Linked DNA regions of Homo sapiens. The protein of the gene in region 4 interacts with the protein of the main gene of each other region in a pairwise test. Each region holds a gene or a part of one and is shown on either strand. Other genes may lie near its edges.

Region 1 (3,500 bases), on a different chromosome or scaffold from region 4:
AAAAGGAAAATGTAAATGTTTTTACTGAGTTGTATATTTAATAGGAGAAAGTGAGTGCGTGTTCTAAGAGGAGAATGTATATTATGCTGTCCTTTCTTTCTTTCTTTTTTGACTGGGTCTTACTCTTTCACCCAGGCTGAGTGCAGTGGCACTATCATGGCTCACTGCAGCTTCAACCTCCTGGGTTCAAGCAATCCTTCTACCTCAGCCTCCAGGTACACCATCACCACACCCAGCTAATTTTTTTATTTTTATTTTTGTAGGGATGGGGTCTCACTATGTTTCCCAGGCTGGTCTTGAACTCCTGGGCTCAAGTGATCCTCCTGCCTCAGCCAAAATCCCAAAGTGCTCGGAGTACAGGTGTGAGCCACCGCACCCGGCCTACATTGTGTTTCTAATGAGGGAGTGTGTGTGTGTGTGTGTGTGTGTAACTGTATTTCTGGGAGGGTGTGTGTGTGTACCGTCTTTTTTTTTTTTTTTTTTAAATGAAGTCTCACTCTGTTGCCCAGGCTGGATTGCAGTGGTGCGACCTTGGCTCACTGCAACCTCCGCCTCCCGGGTTCAAGCAATTCTCCTGCCTCAGCCTCCCAAGTAGCTGGGACTACAGGCATGCGCCACCATGCTCTGCTATTTTTTTTTTTTTTTTTCCAGTAGAGACAGGGTTTCACCCTGTTGGCCAGGCTGGTCTTGAACTCTTGGCCTCAAGTGATTTACCCACCTTGGCCTCCCAAAGTGCTGGCATTACAGGCGTGAGCCACTACACCTGGCCCCATGTTGTATTGGAGAGAAGGGAGAGTGCGTGTGTGTGTCAAATTGTATTTCGGAGAGGAAAATGTGTATGTTGCATTGTGTCTTTAAGAAGGGAGGGTGCGGGTGTGTGAGGTGTTTCTGAGGAGTGTGTTTGTGTGTATATGAGGACCCCAGAGGCACCACCAGCTAAGTTTCTGTGACCTTGTCACCCACATACAACCACATGAAGTCCCATAGAGGGGGGCCCCCACCCACTATGAGCTGGGCTTCAGACTCTCAGCTGTCACATGGCCAGTGTGACATACCTGGACCACACCTATCACACGTGTGTCCCGACAGGCCCTGGGCTGGCTAAGCTTGTCCGATGGAGGAGGGCGGAGCCCCTGTTCCCCCAGGGTCCATCTGTTGCCTGGGAGCCAACACATGGCCCCATCCTCATTCCCCCCAACCTAGAGGCCTCCTGGGCTTCTGGGGGCCCTGGCCCCTCGGCCCTCTCCTCCCACCCCACCCACCCCCAGTGGTCTGACTGGTTCCCGACAAAAACACCCTAAGAATGAGCTCACGCAGAGGCTGCCGCCTCCACACGCCCCGCCTCACTCTGCCGGCAGAGGAGGGTGCCTCTGGTCCCAGGTCACACGGCCAACCGGGAGCTCTGGGCCAGGGGATCCAAGGGCCTTGGGGTGGGGAAGGCTGGCCAGGTGAGCTGAGGGCAGATGGGGGACCCCAGGCTAGCTGTTTGCTTTCTCTTGGTTAATTACACATAGGATTTGGGAACTGTCCTCAGGGCAGAACCCTGGGTTGGGAGGACAGACGAAGGTAGACAAGACTGTTCCAGATGAGAGCTGGCTGGGATGGGTGTGGAGACTGGGATGGAGAGGGTGTGGAGGCAGAGGGCTGGCCAGGATGGGTGGAGCAGGGAAGAGCCAGGATGGGGAGAAGTTAGGGGTCCTGATGGCCATTATGGGAATAGAGGCTGGGGGCCAACTGACTGGCCCGGGCAATGATTCCCCAAACCCCTCACCATTGCTCCCCAGGAGCAGCAATGTCTGTGCAGGTAGCGGCTCCTGGAAGTGCAGGGCTGGGCCCAGAGCGCCTGAGCCCTGAGGAGCTGGTGCGGCAGACGCGGCAAGTGGTCCAGGGGCTGGAGGCGCTGCGGGCAGAGCACCATGGCCTGGCTGGGCACCTGGCGGAGGCCCTGGCGGGACAGGGCCCGGCAGCCGGCTTGGAGATGCTGGAGGAAAAGCAGCAGGTGGTGAGCCACTCGCTGGAGGCCATCGAGCTGGGGCTGGGCGAGGCCCAGGTATGAGGGGGCCAGGTGGGGAGCTGGGGGAAGGTCAGCTGAGGGCGGAGGGAGGGCCAGGCATGAGGGGGACAGGTATGTAGGGGACTGGGAGAGGGTTCACTATTGCAGAGGGGCACACTTTGGGAGGCTGAGGTGGGCAGATCACTTGAGGTCAGGAGTTCAAGACCAGCCTGGCCAACATGGGAAAACCCCATCTCTACTAAAAATACAAAAAGTAGCTGGGCATGAGGGCTCCTGTAATCCCGGCTACTCAGGAGGCTGAGGCATGAGAATCGCTTGAACCTGGGAGGCGGAGGTTGCAGTGAGTGGAGATCGTGCCATTCCACTCCAGTCTGGGTGACAGAGAGAGACTGTCCCAAAAAACAACAGAAAAAAGTATGGCAGAGAGGCACATCCGGGGCAGGGGGAGGCCTAGGGGAACCAGGCCTGGGAAGGGGAGGCTCCAGGTCAGAGATGGAGTCCCTTGGCAGCTTTAGGGGGTCCTTGTGTGTGACAGGGACCCCTGAACCAGATGGCATTCTTCAGTAAACTGTGGGTCCTAGGGCAAGTTTGGGGGTAAAATCAGAGGGGCCCCTGGGAGCCTCTGAGGGCACTGGGGCCATGTTGGCAGAGTCTCTGCAGAATCTGGGGGTGTCGTGCATAGTAGTGGGGTGCTACGGCCTGACTCGAGGCCTGGGCTGGGTCAGGGGCCGTCTGGCAGGGCAGGAACCAACCTCGACTTGGGACCCCCACCCCGGGCAGGTGCTGCTGGCCCTGTCGGCACATGTGGGTGCACTGGAGGCAGAGAAGCAGCGGCTGCGCTCGCAGGCCCGGCGGCTGGCCCAGGAGAACGTGTGGCTGCGGGAGGAACTGGAGGAGACGCAGCGGCGGCTTCGGGCCAGCGAGGAGTCCGTGGCCCAGCTGGAGGAGGAGAAGCGCCACCTGGAGTTCCTGGGGCAGCTGCGACAGTACGACCCACCGGCGGAGAGCCAGGTGCCACGGGCAGGGCGAGGCGGGGGGTGCTGGGCCCTTCATAGAGCCCCACAGTCCCCCAGACCCTCCTTAGAATCCCACAGTCCCCAAGATCCTCCTTAGAATCCCACAGTCCCCCAGACCCTCCTTAGAATGCCACAGTCCCCCAACCCTCCACAGAGCCCCCAGACCCACCAGAACTTCCACAGACGCCCCCACTAGCTACTCCACGAAGCCCCCGAGCCTCGCCAGACCCCCAGGGGGCCTCTGACGCTCGTGACCACCACCTCCCTCAAACCTTGAGATAGGCTGGGTGCGGTGGCTCACGCCTGTAATCCCAACACTTTGGGAGGCCGAGGCGAGCAGATCACCTGAGGTCCGGATTTCAAGACCAGCATGACCAACATGGAGAAACCCCGTCTCTACTAAAAATACAAAATTAGCCGGGTGTGGTGGCACATGCCTGTAATCCCAGCTACTCCGGAAGCTGAGGCAG
Region 2 (3,971 bases), on a different chromosome or scaffold from region 4:
CAGAGATCGCGCCACTGCAACCCAGCCTGGGTGACAGAGCGAGACTTTGTCTCAAAATATAAAAAGAAAAAAAATAAGGGATCTTCCAAAAGGAAAAGGTGACCAGTCGAGAAATCTGGGAAAACCCAACTGGTTAGTGGGAAAGAGTACAACGCCGGGGACACGGAGGGAACGATTACATCTAAGATCAGTGAGGCAAGTACGGTTACTTCGGGAAAAGGGATTGCTGTTCAAGAGACTGTTACTGAAAATAAATGTAACGTAAAGTGACCAAGGATATTACCTATTTACCAGACCCTCTTTAAGCAGTCTACCGACTTACCTCATTTAATTCTCACAATTCTACTAGGAAATACTGTTAACTCCGTAATACAGATTGAAACATTTAAATTACCGCTACTAAGGGATGGGCCAAGAATATAAAGCTAGACCTAACTGAAAAAAAAACAAAAAAAAACGTTATTCGTGCAGCTACATAGCGACAATCAGGCTAGAAAGGGCGCAGGGGCGGGGGAAGCGTGGGGGCTGAGGGACAGAACGCGGAGTGGGAAAGAGCTTCCCAAGACGAGCACACGTCAAGGAAAGAGGCTCGGCGAGAATAAGGCCAGTTTGAGTTTGTGCAGAGAAGCGAACAGGTTAAGAGAAGAGAGGAAAGCGGGACACTGGGCTTCCAAAATGAAGACGATGATTGGAAGGCTCAGTGGCCCGGTCAGTGGGGGACGGAGCTGGGGCAACACTGAAAAGTATGGACAGAAGAGGGCGAAAAGGGGGTCCATTTCCTGGCATCCCCAGAACTCACTGAGCACGAGCACTGGACGATGGCCCATCATGGCGACGCGATGCAGAGCCGGGTACCCAGAGCTGGGGGAACCGGCAGAACCTTCTGGAGAGAGAGAACCAGACAGAAGCCCAGAAAACGCTGCCTCCTCAGGGCTTACACCTCAACCCGCTACTCTCAAGGTAGTCGCCAATCACCGCACCCATCTCATTGATCGGCACAAAAACAGACCAATTGACAGCCTTAGTCCCGCCCCCTACGCAAGAACGGCCAGACAAGTTAGACAGAGAGCGCACGACGAAGGCACTGGGAGGGCACAGGCGCTTGCGCAGTAGGGTGGCCGCTCCCGGCCGCGTGCAGCGCGAACGTCGGCGCAGGCGCCAAGGCTCTGGCAGTTGGCCAGCACACCACTACGCATGTGTGTCAACTCTAGGGTTGGGTGCTGGGGTTGCGGCTTTCGGTTAACACCGCAGGTGAGGTCGTTAAACTGTGTATTGCGACTCGGCTCCTATCGGACCGTGAAGGCTAAGAAAGGCTTCACAGTTCCCACTCTTTTGGTCTAGCCTTAGCAACAGGTGGACTAGAGAGGCGGGACTCCAGCCAGCACATGGGGGAAAGACCTGCCGGCTTGGCGCAGGGTGAAGTGGGAGTTGTAGTCTTACCGGGCCGGACTGCGCAGCCTTTTTCCGGGCACACTGGGAGTTGTGGTTTATCGCCTCTGGACTAATGGCTGTATGTGGACTTTTCCCTTCTTAGGAAATGCTTTCAGTGAGGCTGTGAGCAGTACCGGAGGGTGATGGCTTGCGTTTCCTTAAGTTATCCTATCTAAAATATTTTCCCAAGTATTTCCGCCGGGCGCTGTGGCTCACGCCTGTAATCCCAGCACTTTGGGAGGCCGAGGCGGGTGGATCACCTGAGGTCAGGAGTTCGAGACCAGCGTGGCCAACATGGCGAAACCCCGTCTCTACTAAAAATACAAAAATTAGCCGGGCGTGGTGGCGCGCGCCTGTAATCCCAGCTACTCAGGAGGCTGAGGCAGGAGAATCGCTTGAACCCTGGAGACGGAGGTTGCAGTGAGCCGACATCGTGTCACTGCACTCCAGCCTGGCGACAGAGCGAGACTCCATCTCAAAAAAAAAAAAAAAAGTATTCCCTGTGGTGCTTTGAGATTTTTTTCCCCCACATCCATCCCTCTCCCGCTGTCCTGAGTCTTAGTTAGAGATGATGGGGAGCCAGAGTTTTAAAATTACCATTCGGGATAGGAGAAGGACTTATCATACCGTGGAAATTAAACATGGTGAGAACACGGAAAGTAACTGCCTGTTCGTCAGAGACGTTTAAGGTTTGGGTTTGGTTAAATTACTATTTTGTCCAGAAAAAAAAGGAAGCACTAAAGGAAAACTGTTTTCCAAACTAGTGAAGGGGCCGTGAGAGCACCAACAGTTCAAGAACAGTCACCTGTTTGGCCATGAAATAGAGTTTCCTACTTTTTCCTCTGCAGATTGGAACAGGCTGAGATCTGCTGGAGACAACTTAGGAAATTATCATAGTGAAAATACTAACATGGATTGTTGATCATCTGATGCTATGATTCTTTCCCAGGCACCACACCTGTTGGTGTTCAGATGGAGCGGCACACTAGTCATCCTAACAGAAAAGGTGTGTGTTGGAGGCCCTGCTTCCCCTCCCTTAAAAAGCAAGACCTCCTTTGCATTCCCCACTAAATGGGAGCATTGCTGTATTCCCAGCACCTAGAACTGGATCTGTTAAATAGTAGATGCTCAGTAATTATTTGTTAAATGAATTTATTATTCTTCCTTTGTATCTCCTCTTAATACTTAGAACAAGACTATGTACAGGATCTTAGAAGACATGGTGTTAACTAGAGTGAAGAGATACTGAGTTGTAGTGGGACAGCCCCATTGGTGGGCCAGGGAAATGCCTGAGGCCTTCTGACTCCAGAGCCTATCCACTTAACTTTAGCTGGATCAGATTATCTGAAAGACCTACCATTCCATAGCCTGGACATAATTTTTTTTTTGTTTAGACGGAGTCTCGCTCTGTCACCCAGGCTGGGGTGCAGAGGCACCATCTCTGCTCACTGCAAGCTCCGTCTCCTGGGTTCACGCCATTCTCCTGCCTCGGCCTCCTGAGTAGCTGGGACTGCAGGCACCTGCCACCATGCCCGGCTAATTTTTTTGTGTTTTTAGTAGAGACGGGGTTTCACCGTGTCAGCCAGGATGGTCTTAATCTCCTGACCTTGTGATCCAACTGCCTTGGACTCCCAAAGTGCTGGGATTACAGGTGTGAGCTACCGCCCCCGGCCTTTTTTTTTTTTTTTTTTTTGAGATAGAGTTTTGCTCTTGTTGCCTAGGCTGGAGTGCAGTGGCACTACCTTGGCTCACCGCAACCTCTGCCTCCCGGGTTCAAGCAATTCTCCTGCCTCAGCTTCCCGAGTAGCTGGGATTGCAGGCGTGCACCCCCACGCCCAGCTAATTTTGTATTTTTAGTAGAGATGGGGTTTCGCCATCTTGGTCAGGCTGGTTTCGAACTCCTGACCTCAGGTGATCCGCCTGCCTCGGCCTCCCGAAGTGCTGGGATTACAGGTGTGAGCCACCGCGCCCAGCCCCAGCTTGGGCATAAATTAACTGGCTCTTTTCACAGAGTATATAGTGCAGTGGTAAAGAGCATGACTTTGGAGTCTACAGGACCAAATTTAATTCCAGCTGCTATTTGCCAGACCCTCTTAAGCAGTTTACCTACTTAGGATCACTGCCACCTCTGTCTCCTTGATTCAAGTGATTCTTGTGCCTCAGCCACCCAAGTAGCTGGGATTACAGGTGTATGCCACCACGCCTGGCTAATTTTTGTATTTTTAGTACAGACTGGGTTACGCCAGGTCTTGAACTCCTGGCCTCAAGTGATCCGCCCACTCTGGCCTCCCAAAGTCCTGGGATTACAGGCGTGAGCCATCGCGCCTGGCCAGTTTACCACTTATTTAATGCTCACGATTCTACTAGAAAATACTATTAACCCCACAACAGATCGAAACATTTAAATTAACTGCTACTAAGGGATGGGCTAAGGGTATAAAGCTAGGCCTAACTAAAAAAACATTATTCATGCAGCCACACATATCAACTGTGGAATCTTGAGCAAATTTCATGACTTAAGTTTCCTCAAGTGAAATGTA
Region 3 (3,019 bases), on a different chromosome or scaffold from region 4:
GGTGGCGCAAGCCTGTAATACCAGCTACTCGGGAGGCTGAGGCAGGAGAATCGCTTGAACCTGGGAGGCGGAGTTTGCAGTGAGCCGAGATCGCGCCATTGCACTCCAGCCTGGGCAACAAGAGCGAAACTCCATCTCAAAATAATAATAATAATAATAATAATAATAATAATAATAATAATAATAAACTTAATCCTAAGGGCCAGGCGGGGTGGCTCACGGCCGTAATCCCGGCACTTTGGGGGGCTGTGGAGGGCGGATCACTTGAGGTCAGGAGTTTGAGACCAACCTGGCCAACATGACTAAAAATACAAAAATTAGCCTGGCGTGGTGGTGCGTGCCTGTAATTCCAGCTACTCAGGAGGCTGAGGCAGGAGGATCACTTGAACCCAGGAGGCAGAGGCTGCAGTGAGCCGAGATCACCACACTGCACTCCAGCCTGGGTGACAGAGGGAGATTCCCTCTCAAAAAAATAAAATAAAGGCCGGGTGTGGTGGCTCACGCCTGTAATCCCAGCACTTTGGGAGGCTGAGGTGGGCGGATCACGAGGTCAGGAGATCGAGACCATCCTGGCTAACATGGTGAAACCCTGTCTCTACTAAAAATACAAAAAAATTAGCCGGGCGTGGTGGCGGGCGCCTGTAGTCCCAGCTACTCGGGAGGCTGAGGCAGGAGAATGGCGTGAACCCGGGAGGTGGGGCTTGCAGTGAGCCGAGATCGTGCCACTGCAATCCAGCCTGGGCGACACAGCGAGACTCGGTCTCAAAAAAAAATAAAACAAAATAAACTTAATCCTGAGAGGGTCTTTACCACTCTCCGTTAACAGATGAAGCCACTGACGCTGAGGTTCAGTGACTTGCCCAAGAGCCACCCAGCTAATAAGAGGCAGAGTCTGACCGTCCTCTACTGCTGGATCTTTCAGGGTTTACTGAGCACTTAACTATGTGCTAGCAGCACTGTGGGAAGACCAGGACAGGAGAGGGCTGGAGGAAGATTGCATGAAATGGGTGCATTCTTTTTTTCTTTTGAGATGGAGTCTCACTCTGTCATCCAGGCTGGATGGAGTGTGTTGGCAAGATCTCAGCTCACTGCAACCTCCACCTCCTGGGTTAAGCCATTCTCCTGCCTCAGTCTCCCGAGTAGCTGGAATTACAGGCGTGTGCCACCATGCCCGGCTAATTTTTGTATTTTTAGTAGAGACAGGGTTTCACCATGTTGGCCAGGCTGGTCTCGAACTCCTGGCCTCAGGTGATCTGCCCGCCTTGGCCTCCCAACGTGCCTCGCTGAGATGGGTGGATTCTGGGGTCCAGCTCTTGAGCAGTTCCCTGACACACTGAAGGAGCTTCCTGTGCCACACTTACAGCCTTTCTGCTTTTCCCCCAAGACGAAGAGCTGCCCCTGCCACTGGACCTGCCTCCTCCTCCACCCCTGGATGGAGATGAATTGGGGCTGCCTCCACCCCCACCAGGATTTGGGCCTGATGAGCCCAGCTGGGTGCCTGCCTCATACTTGGAGAAAGGTACCTGACTTCTGGGACTGAGGGGCACCGGATCCCACTTCCTCTGTTGCCCTGATCCCCATTCTCCTCCCTCTGCAAAGGTGTGAATCTATCCCCCGGGCCCCCCACACAATTTTTCTGACGAACTGACAGAACTGGGGAGAGGGCAGCTGGCCTGGTATTAAATATTAACTAAGCTGGGGAGGGGTCCTGAAGGCTTGCAAGAAGGCCCCCAAGATGGCCCCTAGAGTCTAGTACTTGAGACCGTGCATCCCCATGGTGGTGGGGGGTGAGGGGGAGAGGGCAAGAGGCATTATCTCACGGCACCCTCTTCTCTTGCCCTGCAGTGGTGACACTGTACCCATACACCAGCCAGAAGGACAATGAGCTCTCCTTCTCTGAGGGCACTGTCATCTGTGTCACTCGCCGCTACTCCGATGGCTGGTGCGAGGGCGTCAGCTCAGAGGGGACTGGATTCTTCCCTGGGAACTATGTGGAGCCCAGCTGCTGACAGCCCAGGGCTCTCTGGGCAGCTGATGTCTGCACTGAGTGGGTTTCATGAGCCCCAAGCCAAAACCAGCTCCAGTCACAGCTGGACTGGGTCTGCCCACCTCTTGGGCTGTGAGCTGTGTTCTGTCCTTCCTCCCATCGGAGGGAGAAGGGGTCCTGGGGAGAGAGAATTTATCCAGAGGCCTGCTGCAGATGGGGAAGAGCTGGAAACCAAGAAGTTTGTCAACAGAGGACCCCTACTCCATGCAGGACAGGGTCTCCTGCTGCAAGTCCCAACTTTGAATAAAACAGATGATGTCCTGTGACTGCCCCACAGAGATAAGGGGCCAGGAGGGATTGAAAGGCATCCCAGTTCTAAGGCTGCTGCTAATTACAGCCCCCAACCTCCAACCCACCAGCTGACCTAGAAGCAGCATCTTCCCATTTCCTCAGTACCCACAAAGTGCAGCCCACATTGGACCCCAGACACCCCTCTGCAGCCATTGACTGCAACTTGTTCTTTTGCCCATTGCTTGCTGTGTGTGTGGTGTGTTCATATGTGGCTGGGCACTTGCCCAAGAGTGGGAACGATCTCCATGACTTAAGCGGGGCTCTCCGAGAGCACCTCACTGTCAACTCTGAGACTGTCGCGAGAGAGATCTCAGTCATTTCTTCCCCCTTCACCTCCTTTATAGTTGTAAAACACCAGAGGAAGGAGGGGCTTGGGTTTCGCTGGTTCTGCTTAAAAACATGGCTTTCTGTTCCATGGGGGGTGGGGGGGATGCGTGGAAGGCCCAGCCCGCGAGGGTGACTTTGGTGAAGTCCCTGGTCTCTTGCTGCATAGACGAGGCTGGGATGCAAGGAGACACCGTCACTCTCTGCGAGGTTACTGGCTGTCCGGACCCGAGCCGGACGGTGCGCTACCTCGTACCACCACCAGGAGGCGATTGTTCCTCTGGCTTTTCCTTTGGGGGTGCTAGAAGGGAGTGCGGGGGTCGGGAGGCAAGAGAGTGTGGACAGCACAGAAATAGT
Region 4 (3,500 bases):
TCCTGCCTCAGCCTCCCAAATAGCTGGGATTACAGGCACGCCACCACACCCGGCTAAATTTTTTATTTTTATTTTTGGTATTTTTAGTAGAGATGGGGTTTCACCATGTTGGCCAGGCTGGTCTCAAACTCCTGACTTCAGGTGATCCATCCACCTTGGCATCCCAAGGTGCTGGGATTACAGGCGTGAGCCACCACACCCAGCCGGCAGTAATGTTTTAGTATCCCCCAAATACTCATTTACCCTACTCCACATTATACACACAACAGTGTCAAAATAACAATACGATCAGACTACTACCAGCTAAGCTAAATGTTTTGGCATATATGCCCCTTTTATGGTTGTACTACCTATGTTGTCTGGATATAGCCATTACATACTATATTCTTTTGCTTGTAGCGCTCACTTAGGTTTCTGTGTGTGTGATCTCACTTAGTTTTGATTGTAGCAATATGTTGTTAAAAATACCTTTTAAATTAAGACTAAATGTTTAAAGATCTGTGGGGTTTTTTTTTTTTTTTTTTTTTTTTTTTTTTTGAGACAGGGCCTTGCCCTGTCTCCCAGGCTGGAATGCAGTGGCGCAATCTCAGCCCGCTACAACCTCCACCTCCTGGGCTAAAGTGATCTTTCCACCTCAGCTTCCTGAGTAGCTGGGATTACATTCAGGTGTGCATTGGCACGCCTGGCTAATTTTTGTTTTTTGGAAGTTTTTTGTTGTTGTTTTTTCGGTAGAGAGAGTTTCACCATGTGGCCCAGGCTGGGCTCAAGCTTCTGGGCTCAAGCAGTCTGCCTACCTCAACCTCCCAAAGTGCTGGGATTACAGGTGTGAGCCACCCGGCCTGGTCAAGATCTGTGTTTTAATTGTTAGCGAGAGCTTACCGCCCTGCTTTGTCTCCTGCCTCGCCTTCATATGCCCAAGGTGCACACAAACACATTTTAAAAATCAGTACTTCTCCTTTTACCTACTCAGTATGGATGGCACATCTCAAGTTCTACCCTTAATAAGCTCCTCCACCTCCATTCCCCTCACAGTGATTAGCTCTTTGCCTCAAACTTCTGCAGTATCTCTTTGCCATCGTTTGGTACTTGATTATAATCTTACTTATAGTAATTCTAAACTTACTGAAGGTGTGTACATTTCTACTGCTTGAATTATCTCCTGCTTGAGTATTTCTTTTCCTCCTTGTCTCCCAGTGTTTGCAAAAATTTGAGTGGCTTCTTAAGCTGATTATGAAATTGAAGACACCCGGACCCAAGTAACTTGGAGAACTCTTCTGGCTTGGAGTACAGTTATTTGTGTTGTTTATCCCCCTGGTAAACGGCATGTTCCTTGACTAGGGGACATCTTTCTGCTCCCTTGCTATTCCTGGCATAACGCCTTGTACATAATATGTTTAGTTAAATTTATAAGTATCCCTAATGATAACAGTCATAACAACATTTATTGAAGTTAATTCATCCTGTGCTCTGAACCCTTATATTTAAAAAAAAATTCTGCTGGCCGGGTGCGGTGGCTCACGCCTGTAATCCCAGCACTTTGGGAGGCCGAGGCAGGTGGATCACGAGGTCAGGAGATTGAGACCATCCTGGCTAACATGGTGAAACCCTGTCTCTAGTAAAAATACAAAAAATTAGCTGGGTGTGGTGGCAGGCACCTATAGTCTGAGCTACTCCGGAGGCTGAGGTAGGAGAATGGGGTGAACCCGGGAGCCGGAGCTTGCGGAGTGCCACTGCACTCCAGCCTGGGCAACAGAGTGAGACTCCGTCTCAAAAAAAAAAAAAAAAAAAAAATCTGCTAAGTGGGTACTGTTAATTCCTGTTTTGCAGATGAGGAAATAGAGGCTCAGAAAGGTTAAGTAATGGCACACAAGTACCAGAACATGGGGGGATTGGTACTGGAACCCAGCCACACTACTGCTGCCAGGGCTTTTGAGACTTTAAAAATGACATTGGGTTCTCCCATGGTGATTATTCTTTATGGAAGGGCAGCAAAGGAAATAATAAAGATAAATATGTAGGATAAAGAGAATTTGCCATTATGCTGTATAGTCTCCCTTAAATCTCCTACATAATTTTGGAAGTGTCAACTTGTCAAAATTTGCTTATTTTCACAGTTTGTCTTCCCACCTTTTCATAGCAAATCTGAACCCCTGAGTCTTGATAAGAGTAGTTGAAAAGTTGTGAAGTTTGTTCACTTTCACTTGTTTTTATCAGCTGTTCTTTTTTTAAGCTTTGCACTGTGCTCTGAAGAGTTTCTGTTAATGAATACATGATCCTGAGACAGGGTGATTTTGCTTTGCGTTTAACTTTTGCCAGGAAATGTCCCCACTAGTTTTTCTATGCTTTTTTTGGTGGTAAAATACCTAAGTCTATACTCTCCCCAACACCACATTGCCCCATGAATGTGGTAATGTAGCAATGGAAAGCTAGTGAAGATAATTTAAAATAACTTTTCTATGACCATTTAAAAATATGCTAGGTTTCAAACATTGGTGAAAGCAGAATAATTGTGATCCCTACTTATGATTACCTTGAGATCTGGAATCCTTATTGCTGTAGACTGCTTTTCTTGAAATCTGGTATTGTATTTTTTTTTTTTTTTTTTTTTGAGAGGGAGTCTCGCTCTGTCACTCAAACTGGAGTGCAGTGACACTATCTCAGCTGACTGCGACCTGCCTCCCGGGTTCAAGCAATTCTCCTGCCTCAGCCTCCTGAGTAGCTGGAATTACAGGCGTGTGCCACCACCACACCTGGCTAATTTTTGTATTTTTGGAAGAGACGAGGTTTCACCCTGTTGGTCAGGCTGGTCTCGAACTCCTGACCTTGTGATCCACCTGCCTCGGCCTCCCAAAGTGCTGGAATTACAGGCATGAGCCACCACACCCAGCCTGAAATCTGGTATTGTATTTTTTAAGACTACTTTTACATGTGGATTTATTTTTTTTTAAGACTACTTTTACATGTGGATTTATTTTTAAGGAAGAACAGAAACATATTTGAACTTGATGGGTTAAAGGTAAATTTATTTTTCTTTTTGGGTCCTATGACAATGTATTAGATATGTTATGTGAATGAAATTATCTTGAAGAGTTAATTTTTATTTTTCTTAAGTAAATATTGGCTCTAGTAGACCTCCTTTTGTGCATGTGATTTTTGTTTTGTTTTTGTTTCTTTAAATAAGCAACCCTTCTGTGGGGCTCAATTTTGGAAATCTTGGAAGTACTTCAACTCCAGCAACTACATCTGCTCCTTCAAGTGGTTTTGGAACCGGGCTCTTTGGATCTAAACCTGCCACTGGGTTCACTCTAGGAGGAACAAATACAGGTGAGGAGGATCTGATCACATTGTCAGAGAGTAGGCTTGGGATATTCTTTCCTAAATTGTGTCCTGTATCTCTCTTTACAAGGATCATCACTGGTAGTAGACCTTAAAAAATGGTAAATGCTAAGATGAAAAGAAATGCAAGGAATTGGAATTAAGGGCTAGTGATAGGCCCAATC
Region 5 (3,500 bases), on a different chromosome or scaffold from region 4:
CAAATCTATAATCTTTTTGTCCTTTTGCCTCCTCAGCATTCGTTCATAAGCATAGCGAGCATCACTGTCCGAGGCTGCACAGTGCTTCGTCTTGCGTATGCATCCTGCTTTGTTCACCATGTCTCTGGAGTTACGCATTTACTTGCTTGTTGCTTTCACCACTATAAACCATGCCTCATTTCCCTCTCCTGTTAGGCAGATCTGACCCTTCAGCCTGCCTCTTCCAGCCATGGTCAGACTGTTGTTAGTCCAGCGCCTGAGGGAGAGTACTTTCAGAGTTCCAGGCCCTTGTGTGACCTCCACCCTTAAGGTGACTCTTGGCACCCACAGGCCAATCAGCTGTATTCTTAGAGAGCTCTCAGAATACAGGCTGGTGGGCTATTTCCCTAAGGAAAAGCTGGGTGGGTTCTCACTGGGGTTGGAACCAAGGGGAGATGAGGAAATGGGAATAGGTTGGACGCCCTTGGTGGAGCTTCATAGTTTGATTTTACATCAGAGTTGGAAAGCAAAGCATACCCTTCTGCTACAGCTAGTGGTTTCCCCACCTGCGCCTGAGCTATGGACTGGGCAGGGGCCAAGTGCCCAGCAAGGAGCACAGGGAAGGAGCAGGAGGTGGAGAAGCTCAGAGGCAGGCTGCAGTAGGCTCCTCGCCCTTCTCACCATGCGGATGTCTCCTCCCTTGGCCCTATGGGAATATGGAGGGCTCACATTCTCCTCTCTGTGCAGGAGCAGGTCTCCACACTCTTTGGGAGGAGGAAGTTGACTTCTTTCTAACAGTTGCTGTCCTGTCATTCATTCATTCATTCATTCATTCAGCAAAGGCTTCCTGAGCTCCTGTCCTGTTGCAGGCTTGATTAAGTACTACAGATGTGAAGGTGAATTGACATATTTGGGTTCTTAGAGTTTGCCTTCTAGCAGACCACAAACAAGTAAATATAATGTTGCACGTGGTGCATGCAGGCCTTTGGTGCCCAGGACAGTGAGGGCATGGAGGAGGGAGTGTTGTCTGTGTCTGAGAGCACTGGGCAAGCCTCAAGGGGAGACTGTGCCTGAGGTGCATTTTGGAATGAGTTCACAGGTACGATGGGAATGAAGCTGCCCACATGTACTTGGGAGTTGGGGGAAGAGTGGGGACACTTGACTCTCACAAGAAGCATGGCTCTGAGAAAATCAGAGACCGCGCAGAAGCTGACAGGGCATGTGATGTGGACAAAGGGGCCACCAGGCTGGGAGGCAGGTCTGGTAGACCGAGGAGCAATGGGTTGAAATTAGGGTCGGGACAGAGAGGGCTGCATGAGGAGCAAAGACCATGAAGTCCATGGTCCTCCAACACTGCGACCCTCATGCTGCGGCCTCCCTGTGCCCTCAGCACTCAGCCAGGGCCAGAGGTAGCTCGAGCATGGAGCAGGGGCTGAGGGTGCATGGCTTCCTCATGATGGAGTCTACTTGTTGACAGATGACCCAGAAACTTCTGAAGGGCCCCCAAGGCCCTAATGCAGCCCCCAGAGCAGGCTCTTTCCCTTCCCCTGCAGACTCTCCATTTCATGCCTGGTTAATCCCCAGGAACCACTTTTGACAGGGGAATCCTACGTTTCTCTCTACTGAGCTGTAGAGGCTGCTGCCCATGGGCATTTTCAGCAGAGACCTCAGTCCCTACTCTGCCTCAGGGAGGTGGGCCCTGGAGGATGGTGCCATCCATGCTCCTTGTCTCCTGAGAGGTGGTGCAGTCAGCACACCCATCCCACAGACAGCGGAGGAGGCCTGAGCATCAGGGTCCTGTCTGATGCCAGCTCATGATGCACTGTGCCTGAGTGATGAATGCCCATCTCACTGCCTGTCGCTTCCTCTCTCTGCAGGGCCCTGTGGCCGAGTGTGTCCAGCCCAGTGTCATGGGGAGCTTCCATATCTCATGGCTCCTTGCTGGGCCAAGCCCTCCAGAACCCCAAACCCCCAAAGACTGATGAATGCCAGAGTGGCCACCTTGCTTATCTGTGGCCCCGGCCCTGGTGATCACCATGGCAGCTGGGAAGGGAGCCCCGTTGAGCCCATCGGCTGAAAACAGATGGCGACTTAGCGAACCTGAGCTGGGCCGGGGCTGCAAGCCAGTGCTGCTCGAGAAGACGAACCGCCTGGGCCCTGAGGCTGCTGTGGGCAGGGCGGGCCGGGATGTGGGCAGTGCGGAGCTGGCACTGTTGGTAGCCCCAGGCAAGCCCCGACCTGGCAAGCCGCTGCCCCCGAAGACACGTGGAGAGCAGAGGCAGAGCGCCTTCACGGAGCTGCCGAGGATGAAGGACCGGCAGGTGGATGCTCAGGCCCAGGAGAGGGAGCACGATGACCCCACAGGCCAACCTGGTGCCCCACAGCTGACCCAGAACATCCCCAGAGGCCCAGCTGGCAGCAAAGTCTTCTCTGTGTGGCCCAGCGGAGCACGAAGTGAGCAAAGAAGCGCCTTTAGCAAACCAACCAAGCGACCAGCAGAGAGGCCTGAGCTAACCTCAGTCTTCCCTGCAGGGGAATCTGCAGATGCCCTGGGGGAGCTGTCTGGACTCCTCAACACTACAGACCTCGCTTGTTGGGGTCGACTTTCAACTCCCAAGCTTTTGGTTGGTGATTTGTGGAACTTGCAAGCATTGCCACAGAATGCTCCACTCTGTAGCACTTTTCTGGGTGCCCCTACACTGTGGCTGGAGCATACCCAGGCCCAGGTGCCCCCACCCTCATCATCCTCCACCACTTCGTGGGCCCTCCTGCCACCCACCCTCACCTCCCTGGGCTTGTCCACCCAGAACTGGTGTGCAAAGTGCAACCTGTCCTTTCGCCTAACGTCCGACCTGGTCTTTCACATGCGATCCCACCACAAAAAGGAGCATGCGGGGCCTGACCCACATTCTCAGAAGCGGAGAGAAGAGGCCCTTGCCTGCCCTGTGTGCCAGGAGCACTTCCGGGAGCGCCACCACCTCTCCCGGCACATGACTTCTCACAGCTAGCAGGTGACCGCAGAATGACCTGCTGGGTGCAGCAGCCAGCCTTTGGCAGAGGGGGGCTCCCTGGGCCTGCGTTGAGGGGGCTGTCATGGTCCTTTGCAGAGCTGCTGCTTTTGGCATTCATAGATAAACAGCTCAGGCATAATTTGAAAAAGCCACACCTGCATGATGTGTTTTGAAGGAAATGAAGTCCTGAAATAAAGTGATGGGCTTTGCAAATCCAGGGTAGAGGCCCTAACAGGCACAGAGAGCAGGGGCAACTCCTGGCACACATCATGGGCTTTGGAGGCACACAAGCCTGGATTCGAATCTGGGCTCTTTCACATACTAGCTGTGACCCTGGACAAAGAGCTTTAACCTGCTGAGTCCCCATTTTCTCATCTGTGAAATGGAGATGATAACACTGTGTCTTAGGTTGGCATTCAGGTCACATGAAAGGTGTGTGGAAAGTGGCCAGCATTCTGCCTGCAGACCCTGAGCACTGAGTCAACAAGGTTTGTGATGATGTCTGTACTA
Region 6 (3,500 bases), on a different chromosome or scaffold from region 4:
GCATGGCCTGAAACTAGGTGGGAAGGCGTAGGAAAGCCAGGATCTTTACAAGAGGACCTGTGCCTTAGGCAGTGAGGGTGCCTGGTCCTCAGCCAAGCTGTGAGGGTGGGGCTGTGATGATTTAGTGCCAGGAAGCCCAGAAATGGTCCTGAGGGGAGGGAGGCAACAGGCAGCATCTGGACCCAGGGCAGGAGAGTGGAAGTAAAGGGACCTGGCTCAGAGAGGGCCTTCGGGTCAAAGGAGGAGGAGGGGCACCAGGCAGTCCTCTAAACCACGCAAAACTAAGGGGGTCACCAGCTACACTGGGAGATGGTAGAGCCTCGGGACTCAGACCCCACTTTGAACTTCCCTCACATTCCCAGAGTGTGGGCTCTGCTCCTGGCATGGCCATGGGTGGCCAACAGGGAGGGAGAGAAGGGGCAATGAGGGAGACACCAGAGGGGCCCGGGTGGTAGTCAGGGGTGTGGTACTTATTCAGAGTTGAGTTCTTGCAGCCGGTTTCACCCAGGCGGATTCCCTGAGATCAGATAGGATATCTTGAAGCCAGGGGTGGTTTAGGATTAGGGTATGTCAGTGTCAGATTTGGACTCTCAGATTCCCTCCCCTGGGAGCTGCTTCAGGGGGTGCCCCAGAAACTCACCCACCAGCACCAGCTCAGTAGTTTGTCTTCCAGGTGACAGCCAGAAACAGCGTGGCTCTCAACAGCCAGGCATTCTGTGGAATTCCTTTCGGCCTCAGGAGTGAAGGACAACTGTGGGGTTCAGGGTGTTCCACAGGCAGCAGTGAGGCTTCAGTGGTTTTCCTCTTACCTGAGCACTTTGTCACAGAAACTCTCCTTTTCTCTGTGTGTGGGGGGTGTGCTGTGTGCAGTGTGATGCTGTGTGCACATAAACATTTGATAATCTGTGGGCTGTCAGCTTTGCTTAGTGGTGGGCTTTGGAAGAGGTGAAAGCTGTGTGTGCTGTAATAACCCGATACCCTGAAGGTACAAATTCCGAAGGTTGGTTATTTCCAGCTAGAATCATGGCAGGAAGAAGGGGAGAAGTAAGGGAGCCTTGGCATGGCCTGTGTCACGTGGTTACCTTATCACACCTCATACAGGCATCCCTCATTTTACTGTACTTTGCTTTATTACGTTTCACAATTAATTGGTGGTTTTTACAAATCGAAGGTTTGTGGCAACCTGGCGCTGAGCAAGTCTTGTCAGCGCCAGTCTGTTCTTCCAACAGCACACACTCACTCCGTGTTTCAATGTCACATTTTGGTAATTCTCAAACATTTCCAACTTTTTCCTTACTATTATGTCTGTTATAGTGCTCTGAGATCAGCGAGCTTTGATACTACTATTGTCATTGTTTTGGGGCACCATGAACCACACCTGTATAAGACAGCAAACTTGATCAGTGTTGTGTGTGTCCCAACTGCTCTCCTGTGTCAAACTTGATCAGTGTTGTGTGTGTCCCAACTGCTCTCCTGTGTCTCCCTCTCCTTGGGTCTCCCTATTCCCTGAAACACAACAATTTTGAAATTAGGCCAATTGATAACCCTATAGTGGCCTATAAAGTGTTCAAGAGAAAGGAAGAGCTGCGCATCTCTCATTTTAAATCCAAAGCTAGAATGATGACGGTGAAGGCATGTCCAAAACCGAGACAGGCCTAAAGCTAGGGGGCTCTTATACCAGTTAAGTATGTAAATGTAAAGGAAGAGTTCCTGAAGGAAATGAAAGTGCTACGTCAGTGAAAACATGAATGATAAGAAAGTGGGACATCCTGATTGTTGATATGGAGAAAGTTTTAGTGGTCTGGATAGAAGATCAAACCAGCCACAACATTCCTTTCAGGCTAACCCAGAGCAAGGCCCTAACTCTTCAATTCTTTGAATGCTGAGAGAGGCGAAGAAGCTGCAGAAGAAAAGTGTGAAGCTAGCAGAGGTTGGTTCATGAGGTTTAAAGAAAAAAGCCATCTCCATAACATAAAAGTGCAAGGTGAAGCAGCGAGTGCTAATGGAGAAGCTGCAGTAAGCTGTCCAGAAGATCTAGCTACGCTCATTGATGAAGGTGGCTACGTCAAACAGCTTCACTGTAGGTGAAACGGCCTTCTACTGGAAGAAGATGCCATCTAGGACTTTCATAGCTGGAGAAGAGAAGTCCATGCCTGGCTTCAGAGCTTCAAAGGACAGGCTGAGTCTTGTTAGTACAGCTTGTGACTTTAAGTTGAAGCCAGTGCTACTAAATACACTCTGCCTGTGCTCTGTAAATGGAACAACAAAGTCTGGACGACAGCACATCTGTTTTCACAGTTTATGGAATAGTTTAAGCCCAGGTGAGACCTACTACTCAGAAAAAAGATTCCTTTCAAAATATTACTGCTCATTACAGTGCATCTGGTTACCCAAGAGCTCTCATGGAGATATACAAGAAGATTAATATTTTTCATGCCTGCAAATACAACATCCATTCTACAACCCAGAAGTCAAGGAGTAATTTTGACTTTCAAGTCTTATTACTTAATAAATACATTTCATAAAGCTACAGCTGCCATAGATAGTGATTCCTCTGATGGATCTGGGCAAAGTCAATTGAAAACCTTCTGGAAAGGAGTCACCATCCTAGATGCTATTAAGAATATTCATGATTCATGGGAGGAGGTCAAAATATCAACATTAACAGGAGTTTGGAAGAAACTGATTCCAGCCCTCATGGATCACTTTGAAGGGTTCAAGACTTCATTGGAGGAGGGAACTGCAGATGTGGTAGAAATAGCAAGAGAACTAGCATTAGAAGTGGAGCCTGGAGATGCAACCAAATTGCTGCAATTTATTGATCAAACTTGATTGGGTGAGTAGTTGCTTCTCACAGATGAGCAGAGAAAGTGGTTTCTTGAGATAGAATCTACTCCTGTTGAAGACGCTGTGAATATTGTTGAAATGACAACAAAGGACTGAGAATATTACATAACTTTACATTACATTACTTAGTTGATAAAGCAGCGGCAGGGTTTGAGAGGATTGACTCCAATTTTGAAAGAAGTTCTACTCTGGGTAAAATGCTATCAAACAGCATCACATGCCATAGAGAAATCTTTCATGAAAGGAATAATCAATTGGGCCAGGTGCGCTGGCTCACGCCTGTAATCGCAGCACTTTGGGAGGCCAAGGCGGGTGGATCACCTGAGGTCAGGAGTTCAAGACCAGCCTGGCCAACATGGCAAAACCCCGTCTCTACTAAAAGTACAAAAATTAGCCAGGTTTGGTGGCAGATGCCTGTAATCCCACTACTTGGGAGCCTGAGGCAGGAGAATCACTTGAACCTGGGAGGTGGAGGTTGTGATGAGCCGAGATCACGCCACCGCACTCCAGCCTGGACAACAAGAGCGAAACTCGCATCTCACCAAAAAAATAAATAAATAAATAAAAGAGTCAATCAATGTGGCAAACTTCATTATTGTCTTATTTTAAGAAACTGCCACAGCCACCCCAGTCTTCATGACTCTGCCTCCTTG
Region 7 (3,500 bases), on a different chromosome or scaffold from region 4:
AGACCCTGTCTCTATTTTTAAGCCTGTAATGCCAGCACTTCGGGAGGCCAAGGTGGGCGGATCGCTTGAGCTCAGGGGTTCAAAACCAGCCTGGGCTTCATGGCAAAACCCCATCTCTACAAAAAATACTAAAATTAGCTGGGTGTAGTGGTATGCACCTGTGGTCCCACCTATTCGGGAGGGGACTGAGATGGGAGGATTGCTTTTTATTTATTTATTTATTTTGGAGACAGAGTCTTGCTCTGTCACCCAGGCTGGAGTGCCATGGCACGACCTTGGCTCCTTGCAACCTCTGCCTCCTGGGTTCCAGCGATTCTTTTCAAGTATTTTCTTTCTTTCCTTTTTTTTTTTTTTTTTTTTTTTTTGAGACAGAGTCTTGCACTGTTGCCCAGGCTGGAGTGCAGTGGCGCAGTCTCGGCTCACTGCAAGCTCCGCCTCCCAGGTTCACGCCATTCTCCTGCCTCCGCCTCTCGAGTAGCTGGGACTACAGGTGCCCGCCACCACGCCCGGCTAATTTTTTGAACTTTTAGTAGAGATGGGGTTTCACCGTGTTAGCCAGGATGGTCTCGATCTCCTGACCTCGTGATCCATCTGCCTAGGCCTCCCAAAGTGCTGGGATTACAGGCGTGAGCCACCACGCCCAGCCCAAATATTTTCAATCCACATGGTTGAGTCCATGGATGGAGAACCCATAGAAAAGGGGGGCTGCCTGTACACATGAGGTGTTAGAAGGTGATAAATGCTAAGGACAGAGAGCAGGAAACTGAAAGTGTGGGGATTGCTATGCAAAACTGATATATCAGGGAAGGCTTCACCGAGAAGGTGTCCTTTAAACAGACGTGAAACGGAGCTATGCGAGCATTGGGAAGAGCATACCAGGCAGAGGGAACTGCCACTGCGAGGGCCCCTGGGCGGGACTGTGCTCGGTAAGCCTTTGGCAATCCACGCCCAGACTAGGAGCCTGCACCCCTAACCAATGGACCACCCTGTCTGTTTGCCCCTCCCCGGGGCCTTCTCCTGGTGGGTGGGGCCCCCGCAGGTGTGATTCGCTCACTGCACAGCCTGGGCCGCCTGGAGCATGCCTTCTGCACAGAGACCCGGCCCTACAACCAGGGAGCCCGGCTGACGGCCTTTGAGCTGGTCTATGAGCAGATCCCCGCCACCCTTATCACCGACAGCATGGTGGCTGCTGCCATGGCCCATAGGGGCGTGTCAGGTAAGCAGACGGTAAGCCCTGGGGGCGGGGCTCTGGAGCATGGGGCCAGGTAATGACCCCCAACTTCTCATACGCCCCCTCCCCAGCTGTGGTCGTGGGAGCTGACCGCGTGGTTGCCAACGGCGACACAGCCAACAAGGTGGGCACCTACCAGCTGGCCATTGTCGCCAAGCACCATGGCATTCCCTTCTACGTGGCTGCCCCCAGCTCTTCATGTGACCTCCGTCTGGAGACCGGCAAGGAGATCATTATTGAAGAGCGACCGGGCCAGGAGCTGACCGATGTTAATGGGGTCCGGATTGCAGCACCTGGTAAGCTGCCCCCTCAGAAAGGGGACACCCCAGCTCCTGGGCACTTCATGGAGGCAGGTGATATGCAGGTCCTTGTCATCCTTCTGGAACATACACAGCTCCTACAAGCCACTTTTTCTTTTTTCTTTTTTTTGAGATGGAGTCTTGCTCTGTCCCTCAGGCTAGAGTGCAGTGGCACGATCTGGGCTCCCTGCAACCTCCACCTCCCGGGCTCAAGCAGTTCTCCTGCCTCAGCCCCCCAAGTAGCTGGGACTATAGGTGGGTGCCACCACGCCTGGCTAATTTTTGTATTTTTAGTAGAGATGAGGTTTCAACATGTGGACCAGGCTATTTATTAACTACTGACCTCAAGCAATCAGCCTGCCTCTGCCTCCCAAAGCGCTAGGATTACAGGTGTGAGCCACAGCACGCCTGGCCCAAGCCACTTCTTCTAACAGGTGCATCCTGGAGGTCAGATCCAATGTTGGAATTTACAACTAACCGGTTATATGAATGATCTTGAGTAACTGTCTTGCTATTCTCCACTTAGGTTTTCTTAAGAGGAAATAAGAATATCTGGCTGGCCACGTGTTTGTAAAGAAAAACCAAGACGGCCAGGCGAGGTGGCTCACACCTGTAATCCCAGCACTTTGGGAGGCCGAGGCGGGCAGATCACAAGGTCAGGAGTTCGAGACCAGCCTGGTCAACATAGTGAAACCCCGTCTCTACTAAAAATACAAAAATTAGCCGGACATGGTGGCACCCGCCTGTAGTCCCAACTACTCAGGAGGCTGAGGGAGGAGAATCACTTGAACCTGAGAGGCGGAGGTTGTGGTGAGCTGAGATTACACCATTGCACTCCAGCCTGGGCAACAGAGTGAGATTCTGTCTCAAAAAAAAAAAAGAAAAGAAAAAGCAAGATATTTCTACACTTATTTTTATTTGTTTATTTTCATAGAGATAGGGTCTCGCTATGTTCCCCAGGCTGGTCTCAAACTCCTGGCCTCAAGCGATCCTCCTGCCTCAGCCTCCCAAAGCACTGAGATTACAGGTGTGAGCTCCCATGCCTAGCTGCAAGACTTTTCTTAGCTGCCTATACTTCCTGGCTGTGCAACCGTTAGCAAGTTCCCTAAATTCTCTAATTCCCTAAGATCCTCACTGGTCCTATCTGTAAAATGGGCTATGGCTAGAACCTGCTGCATAAACCCAAGGGCGGTCAGTGAATTAACCCACAGGACATTTAGATCAATGACTGGCCCTTTAAATAGTTCATGCACTCAGATGCCGTGGCTCACGCCTATAATCCCAACACTTTGGGAGGCGGAGGTGGGCGGATCACTTGAGGTCAGGCGTTCCAGACCAGCCTAGCCAACAGAGCGAAACCACGTCTCTACTAAAAAAATATAAAAATTAGCCAGGCGTGGTGGCACATGCCTGTAGTCCCATCTACTTGGGAAGCTGAGGCATGAGAATTGCTTGAACCTAGGACGCAGAGGTTGCAGTAAGTTGAGACTGCACCACTGCACTCCAGTCTGGGTGACAGAGCGAAACTCCATCTCAAAAATAAAAAAAAAGGCCGAGCGCTGTGGCTCACGCCTGTAATCCCAGCACTTTGGGAAGCCGAGGCGGGCGGATCACCTGAGGTCGGGAGTTCAAGACCAGCCTGACCAACATGGAGAAACCCTGCCTCTACTAAAAATACAAAATTAGCCGGGCGTGGTGGCACATGCCTGTAACCCCAGCTACTCAGGAGGCTGAGGCAGGAGAATTGCTTGAACCCGGGAGGCGGAGGTTGCAATGAGCCAAGATAGCGCCACAGCACTCCAGCCTGGGCAACAAGAGTGAAACTCCATCTCAAAGAAAAAAAAGAAAAAACAGTTCATGAAATATTAGCATGAACCAATATTAGCATTATGGGGCCAGGTAAAATGGCTCACACCTGAAATCCCAGTATTTTGGGAGGCTGAGGTGGGAGGATCACTTGAGCTCAGGAG

What was found.
Region 1: the proteins of NUP58 (region 4) and KLC3 interact in binary tests that used the Homo sapiens proteins (3 or more experiments, as listed by UniProt).
Region 2: the proteins of NUP58 (region 4) and TSACC interact in binary tests that used the Homo sapiens proteins (3 or more experiments, as listed by UniProt).
Region 3: the proteins of NUP58 (region 4) and ABI3 interact in binary tests that used the Homo sapiens proteins (3 or more experiments, as listed by UniProt).
Region 5: the proteins of NUP58 (region 4) and ZNF488 interact in binary tests that used the Homo sapiens proteins (3 or more experiments, as listed by UniProt).
Region 6: the proteins of NUP58 (region 4) and ELK3 interact in binary tests that used the Homo sapiens proteins (3 or more experiments, as listed by UniProt).
Region 7: the proteins of NUP58 (region 4) and MRI1 interact in binary tests that used the Homo sapiens proteins (3 or more experiments, as listed by UniProt).

The regions. Positions count from the first base shown.
Region 1 is NC_000019.10:45,343,750-45,347,249, forward strand, and holds part of KLC3 (kinesin light chain 3), read left to right. Parts: intron 1-1,784; 5' UTR 1,785-1,792; coding exon 1,793-2,050; intron 2,051-2,794; coding exon 2,795-3,025; intron 3,026-3,500. UniProt on the Homo sapiens protein: Kinesin is a microtubule-associated force-producing protein that may play a role in organelle transport. Plays a role during spermiogenesis in the development of the sperm tail midpiece and in the normal function of spermatozoa.
Region 2 is NC_000001.11:156,337,355-156,341,325, forward strand, and holds the start of TSACC (TSSK6-activating co-chaperone protein), read left to right. Parts: upstream 1-1,171; 5' UTR 1,172-1,251; exon of another isoform or gene 1,252-1,385; coding exon of another isoform or gene 1,386-1,416; exon of another isoform or gene 1,417-1,510; intron 1,511-1,547; exon of another isoform or gene 1,548-1,571; intron 1,572-2,279; 5' UTR 2,280-2,380; coding exon of another isoform or gene 2,381-2,403; coding exon 2,404-2,437; intron 2,438-3,971. Other genes in the region: CCT3 (T-complex protein 1 subunit gamma), read right to left, coding at 800-830.
Region 3 is NC_000017.11:49,220,707-49,223,725, forward strand, and holds the end of ABI3 (ABI gene family member 3), read left to right. Parts: intron 1-1,363; coding exon of another isoform or gene 1,364-1,384; coding exon 1,385-1,519; intron 1,520-1,845; coding exon 1,846-2,009; 3' UTR 2,010-2,519; downstream 2,520-3,019. UniProt on the Homo sapiens protein: May inhibit tumor metastasis. In vitro, reduces cell motility.
Region 4 is NC_000013.11:25,304,625-25,308,124, forward strand, and holds part of NUP58 (nucleoporin p58/p45), read left to right. Parts: intron 1-2,979; exon of another isoform or gene 2,980-3,016; intron 3,017-3,181; coding exon 3,182-3,324; intron 3,325-3,500. UniProt on the Homo sapiens protein: Component of the nuclear pore complex, a complex required for the trafficking across the nuclear membrane.
Region 5 is NC_000010.11:47,367,294-47,370,793, reverse strand, and holds part of ZNF488 (zinc finger protein 488), read left to right. Parts: intron 1-1,856; 5' UTR 1,857-1,964; coding exon 1,965-2,987; 3' UTR 2,988-3,500. UniProt on the Homo sapiens protein: Transcriptional repressor. Plays a role in oligodendrocyte differentiation, together with OLIG2. Mediates Notch signaling-activated formation of oligodendrocyte precursors.
Region 6 is NC_000012.12:96,249,875-96,253,374, forward strand, and holds part of ELK3 (ETS domain-containing protein Elk-3), read left to right. Parts: intron 1-3,500. UniProt on the Homo sapiens protein: May be a negative regulator of transcription, but can activate transcription when coexpressed with Ras, Src or Mos. Forms a ternary complex with the serum response factor and the ETS and SRF motifs of the Fos serum response element.
Region 7 is NC_000019.10:13,767,522-13,771,021, forward strand, and holds part of MRI1 (methylthioribose-1-phosphate isomerase), read left to right. Parts: intron 1-837; coding exon of another isoform or gene 838-926; exon of another isoform or gene 927-1,039; coding exon 1,040-1,216; intron 1,217-1,302; coding exon 1,303-1,527; intron 1,528-2,056; coding exon of another isoform or gene 2,057-2,076; exon of another isoform or gene 2,077-3,500.